2 separate regions of the Homo sapiens genome follow, and region 1 is linked to region 2. Evidence: fine-mapped expression QTL. A gene starts in region 2. The other region holds a variant in brackets. All regions are shown on one strand. Distances are from middle to middle.

Region 1 (2,925 bases), 93 kb after region 2:
GAGTGCTGAAGATTAGAAAACGGCTTCTTCGGAGGAACTCCAGAGACATACTGCTGAGAAAATGAAGTCAGCCATTCACGAGAATATACCGTATGATTTGGCGTGATTCTGTAGGGTTTCTGCACTTTAATCCCTTTGTGATCGCCGTAAATATGTTACAGGAAAGGGGTCCAGATCCAGACCCCAAGAGAGGGTTCTCGGATCTCGCGCAAGAAAGAATTCAGGGCTAGTCCGTAGTGCAAAGTGAAAGCAAGTTTATTAAGAAAGTAAAGGAATAAAGAACGGCTGCTCCATAGACGGAGCAGCCCCGAGGGCTGCTGGTTGCCCATTTTTATGGTTATTTCTGGATGATATTCTAAACAAGGGGTGGATTATTCATGCCTCCCCCTTTTAGACCATACAGGGCAGCATCCTGACGTTGCCATGGCATTTGTAAACTGTCCCGGTGCTGGTGGGAGTGTAGCAGTGAGGACGGCCAGAGGTCACTCTCGTGGCCACTTTGGTTTTGGTGGGTTTTGGCCGGCTCCGTCACTGCAAGCTGCTTTATCAGCAAGGTATTTATGGCCCATATTTTGTGCTGACCTCCTATCTCATCCTGTGACTTAGAATGCCTTAACCATCTAGGAATGCAGCCCAGTTGGTCTCAGCCTCATTTTACCCAGCTCCTATTTAAGATGGAGTTGCTTTCATTCACACACGTCTGACAATTCCTTCTTGCAAAAGACAAAACGCAGGCCATGCATGCTGGCTCATGCCTGTAATCCCAGCACTTTAGGAGGTTAAGAAGGGAGGGAGGTTTAAGGTCAGGAGATCCAGACAAGTCTGGGAAACACAACGTGAAAGGAAAATAAATCTTGGGGCCCCCAAATCACTAAGCTAAAGGAAAAAGTCAAGCTGGGAACTGCTTAGGGCAAACCTGCCTCCCATTCGACTCAATGTCATTCCTCTGTTCACTGAGATGAATGCGTATCTGAATGCCTCCTTTGGAGAGGCTCATCTGAAACTCAGTAGAATACAACCAATTGTACCTGGAAGCCCCCTCCCTACTTTGAGTCATCTGGCCTTTTCTGGACTGAACCAATGTTCATCCTACATTTGTTGATTGATGTCTCACATCTCCCTAAAATGTATAAAACCAAGCTGTGGTCTGACCACCTTGGGCACATGTTACCAGGACCTCCTGAGGCCGTGTCATGGGCTCGCATCCTTAACTTTGGCAAAACAAACTTCCTAAATGGACTGAGACCTGTCTCAGACTTTTGGGTTTCACAATAGTGAGACCCCATCTCTGCAAAAAAATAAAAGAGATTAGCTAGGTGTCACGGCACACGCCTGTAGACCCAGCTACCTGGGAGGCTGAGGCCGGAGGGTCACTTGAGCCCAGGAGTTCAAAGCTGCAGTGAGCTGTGATTGCACCACTGCACTGCAGCCTGGGCAAGACAGAGCAAGACTGTCTCAAAACAAAACAAAAAAACCATACAATCAATGGTGGTAGATATCACAATAGTGTTTTTTCTTTGCTGGGGCTGCCACTGAGAGGAAATTTCTGGGATGCTAGATTCTATACCCTTCTCTGGAGGAATTCACTCTGTAAAGATTCATCATGCTGTATCCTTGAGAGGTGGGAATTCGCCATA[T/C]GTGGGTTACATCTCATTAAGTTATGCCTCTAGATGATCTTGATCTCCTTCTTTATCTAGCTCATATACAATGACAAATGTGGAACATACAGAAACATATAGGGAATGGTGGGTTAAATGCTGCGTACTCACAATTCGACTTTTACAAGCCTTAACATTTTGCTGTTTCCTCCAAATTTTTTCTTGTCTTTTAAAGAAATACAACATCACAGGTAGTAATCGAAAGCCTGGATGTCTCTGTTTCTGATCACACTGTTTGCTCTCCCTCTCCAGAGGTAACCATCATCTTGCGTTTAGTATTTTTCATTTTCATTTATGTTTTTATACCTTCCCAACATATATATTTTATGTAGCCATCAAAGATACATTGTGTTGTTTTGCAGGCTTTTAAACTTTATATGAATGGCATCGTAGAGTTGGAACTCAGCAACTCGCTTTTTCGGGCAAGAGATTTTGTTCTGAGAATTATCCATGTGGATTCACGTAGCTCTATTTCCTTCATTTTAACTACTATATAGTGCTCCATCGCACAAATACACTGTAATTTATTTATCCATTCTCCTAAAGATATTTAAGTTGAGTGACAAAGACTACTGGTTGCTTCCCAAATACTTTTTCCCTCCTTTAGTAACAGATACGCAAAGCAACAATGTGCCCAGCTAAAAGCCTACATTTCTTTACCTCTTTTGCTTCCAGGTGTGGCTACACATATATTCTGGTCACCACAATATAAACAGAACTTTCAGGGGAGGATATATGAGAGCGCTTCTCCAAAGAGGGACAGACTGGGGCATTCGCTTTTGCTCTTCCTCCCTCCCTCGCCCTCTTCTGTTGATTGGAATGTGGATTTGATAGCTGGAGCTCCAGCAGCCACATTAGACCATGCAGTGATGCTGAGGATGAAGCCTCCCTCCTCAGTACGACAGAGCAGGAAGACAGAAGGAAACCAGGTCCCTGGTGACTTTGTGGAGCCTTCATCCCAGCCTTGGATTGATTGATTGATTGATTGATTGATTGATTTTATTTATTTTTTTGAGACGGAGTCTCACTTTGTTGCCCAGGCTGGAGTGCAGTGGTGTGATCTTGGCTCACTGCAACCTCCACCTGCTGGGTTCAAGCAATTCCCTGCCTCAGCCTCCTGAGTAGCTGGGATTACAGGCACCCACCAACACACCCAGCTAATTTTTGTATTTTTAGTAGAGATGGGGTTTCACCATGTTGGCCAGGCTGGTCTCGAACTCCTGATCTCAATCCACCTGCCTTGGGCTCCCAAAGGGGTGGGATTACA
Region 2 (2,925 bases):
AATAATTCCCAGGAGTGGTATAAATGTAACTCAGCTCATTTGAATTTTTTTTAGAAATTATGGTTACTTCAAAAATTGGGAGTCATGTGAGTTCCTATGTTCAGTATATTTTATAAACCCAAACGTACACTAAGGTTATAGCAACTTTTATTCCAAATGCCATCAATTTTCAAAATAACCCCCAAGATGAAAGATACTCATCAAAGTTTGTAAGTGGCTATTCAGAATTAAGTCAAGCACTTTAAGAAAAGGATAGTAAAAAGGGATATAATCTACTTAATGGTTCTTGGATCTTTCCATGCCATTACTTACACCACTTACCTATCTATCCTCTACTCAGAAAAGGGAACAATGATAACAGGAAACAAAATAGAAATAGAATTGCTGCAGGGTGCAAAAAAAGCTAAATTGGGATAATATAGAAAAAGTACTTTAAAAGAACTAATGACACGGTGGGATATGATCACCAGAAAACATTTCACATACCCTTTATGTCTTGTTTTCCCTCAAGACAGACCCTAACTACAACAAAGTATTCCCATGTAGAGCTTGTTCCTGCATCCATGATGTGACAAATTATTTCTTCAACCTGGTGCCTGTTCCGATTTAGATTCCCACTCTTCGGAAAATACAGGACAGAACTCATTTCCTCCCCAGACACTGTGAATACCTCAATTTTTTCATGCTCCTCAGAACTTTGTGAAAAGAGAAGAGAAAAAAAAAGGGTTTCCCTAGGTCACCAACACAGTAATAATCTGAAAAAAAAAGAAAAATCTCTTCTCTTTTTCCTTCAGGAATGGAAATGGGAAGGAATGGTAAAACCCCAAACAGTGTATCTGTGACAGCCCATGAGTGGCTCTGTTATTCAACATGGAAACAGAAATATCTACTTCAGCTTGTCTGAGCCTCAAATTTCCTTAGGTGTCTGGCCAAAGAACACGTAACTACAGGCACAGCTGGTCTATCAGCCTCTAAATGAATAAAAACAGGAGCCACAGCCTGTGAACTAAGCTCTGGATGTAAATCTCGTGTTTTCAGTAAATCCACAGATCTCTCGTCGTGGCACACCCTCCCTGCTACCAGCAGGAATGATCTCTTCCCCCATTTAGCTCAAACAATTACTTTCCTAATCCCACATACATGATCACTAGCCTCCTAAGAAGAATTCACAAAAATATTGGGGATCTCTGGAACGTGTATCAAGTATTTGGACATCAAAAAAAAAACCTCCCAAATCCTGACAATTTTTACATTTAGTAGGGTCAGAAGTACAGTGATTTTGTATTTAAGTGACAGATTTTTCCATTTTGTAAAACTTTTTAAATGAAACTTTTATAAATATATATTTATATATTTATAAAATTATATATTATACATTATAAGAAATATACTTCTTAATTTATTGACATACAAGGATTTTCCTGTTATCTTTTGGTTGATTCCTTCTATAATTCCGTAAGAAAAATACTCTACATGATTTCAATCATTTGAAATTTATCAATACTTGCTTTATATTCCTATATGTAATCAATGTCAGATGCTCCATGTGCTTGAAAAGAATGGATTATACAGGAACTGTAACATTCTATGAATGTCCATGAGGTCAGATTTGTTCATTGATCATGTTCTTTAAGTCTTCCATATCCTAAGATTTCTGTCTGCAAGTTGTACTATTCAGAAAGGTATGTTAACTTCCCACTAGGATTGTGCATTCAGCTATTTTTCTTGTTTCTGTATATTTTTGCTTTATATAATATGTACCTATATCTGAACTGAACCTTTTACCACTGTGCAGTGATCCTCTTCATCTCTAATGCCTTTTGCCTTGATTTCTATGTTGTCTGATATCAACATGTTATACCAGCTTTATTTTGCTTAAAGTGAGCCTGAAATAAAATTTTCCATTATTTTGCCTTCTGTATCTTTGTTTTTAGATATGCTTCTTGTAAACCTAGTATCTCAGATGTTTTTAATCCAATCTGACGTGTCTTTTAGCAGAATCCTCTAGTCTATTTACATTTATTGTAATTACTGACACTTGAATTTATAGCTATCATGTTATTGTGTGCTTTCTGTTTTTCCTGCCTCCTCTATACTGTCTTCATAGTAGACAGTGGTGTTAAGGTCCATTTTCTAATTTTTCTCCTTGTGTTGAGTAATATCAATAAATTGTTAGGTAAAATGATTCACCAATTTTTATTATTTATATGTCTCAATATAACTTTCCTAAATTCTCATGCTTCTAGTTGAAAGCAAAACATAGGACATAAAATCTTTATGAAATTACAATACAACTACCATCTGGCCTTTAAGATTAACCAATCTATGGAAGTACAAGGCTGCCCATTAAAAATGACAACAGTAGGCTCTCAGAACTGCTGCAGCTTAGTCAGTAACCAAGCTGTTTTCAAATTTTTTATTCTTCTAGTTTTACCCAGTGAAACTAAGATATATTATCACAACATAGATATCTATTTATGTATGTAGTATCAGATATTATTGATTCTTGGGGCAACCAGATGTCACTAATTGTGTTTACCCTACCATAATTCTCCTTTAATACCCAGCTCAAAATATAAACCAGTTAAAGCCAAATTCTTCAGAAGCAAAACGGTGTCATTCTACTTTTAATGGGGGGAAAAAACTATTTTAACAGTCCTACTAATTTTTTTCAGTGTCACACAAACTATCATACTGCAAGATAAATCGTGAGAAGTAAACAAGCCAGTACAAAGCCTAGCATCTTAACACAGTAAATATGACATTGGTGACTGTAGAAGGAAAAGATGAGACATCACCAGGAAAAGGTTTTCCCAAACACCTCACTGACTGGTGGTTCAAGGTAAGACTGTTAGTCTTGTGGCCCAAAGGCTCTATCATGGTCTAGAGTTGATTAGGAAAAATGCCTCAGGGCAAAGTTAAAGA

Which allele goes with the higher level. Positions count from the first base shown, and alleles are read on the strand shown. Sizes are in standard deviations (SD) of each study's normalised expression.
For the expression in tibial nerve of the gene that starts at base 1,405 in region 2, T is the high allele of the variant in region 1 and C is the other (small effect, 0.33 SD a copy in GTEx).

The links. PIP is the estimated chance that this variant, and not a neighbour inherited with it, causes the effect.
Region 1: its variant is the best candidate, but not a certain one, in a credible set for the expression of SDK1-AS1 in tibial nerve (GTEx, PIP 0.53).

What each region holds. Positions count from the first base shown.
Region 1 is chr7:3,257,613-3,260,537 of GRCh38, reverse strand. All of the region lies in intron 2 of SDK1-AS1 (SDK1 antisense RNA 1), which reads left to right. Among named protein-coding and RNA genes, the nearest start is that of SDK1, 42 kb to the left of the region's middle. The variant T/C (reference allele first, on the strand shown) is at 1,638.
Region 2 is chr7:3,350,565-3,353,489 of GRCh38, reverse strand. SDK1-AS1 (SDK1 antisense RNA 1) reads left to right here and starts at 1,405. Exons shown (of 3, transcript XR_001744897.3): 1 at 1,405-2,925. The region is part of intron 1 of SDK1 (sidekick cell adhesion molecule 1); the gene reads right to left.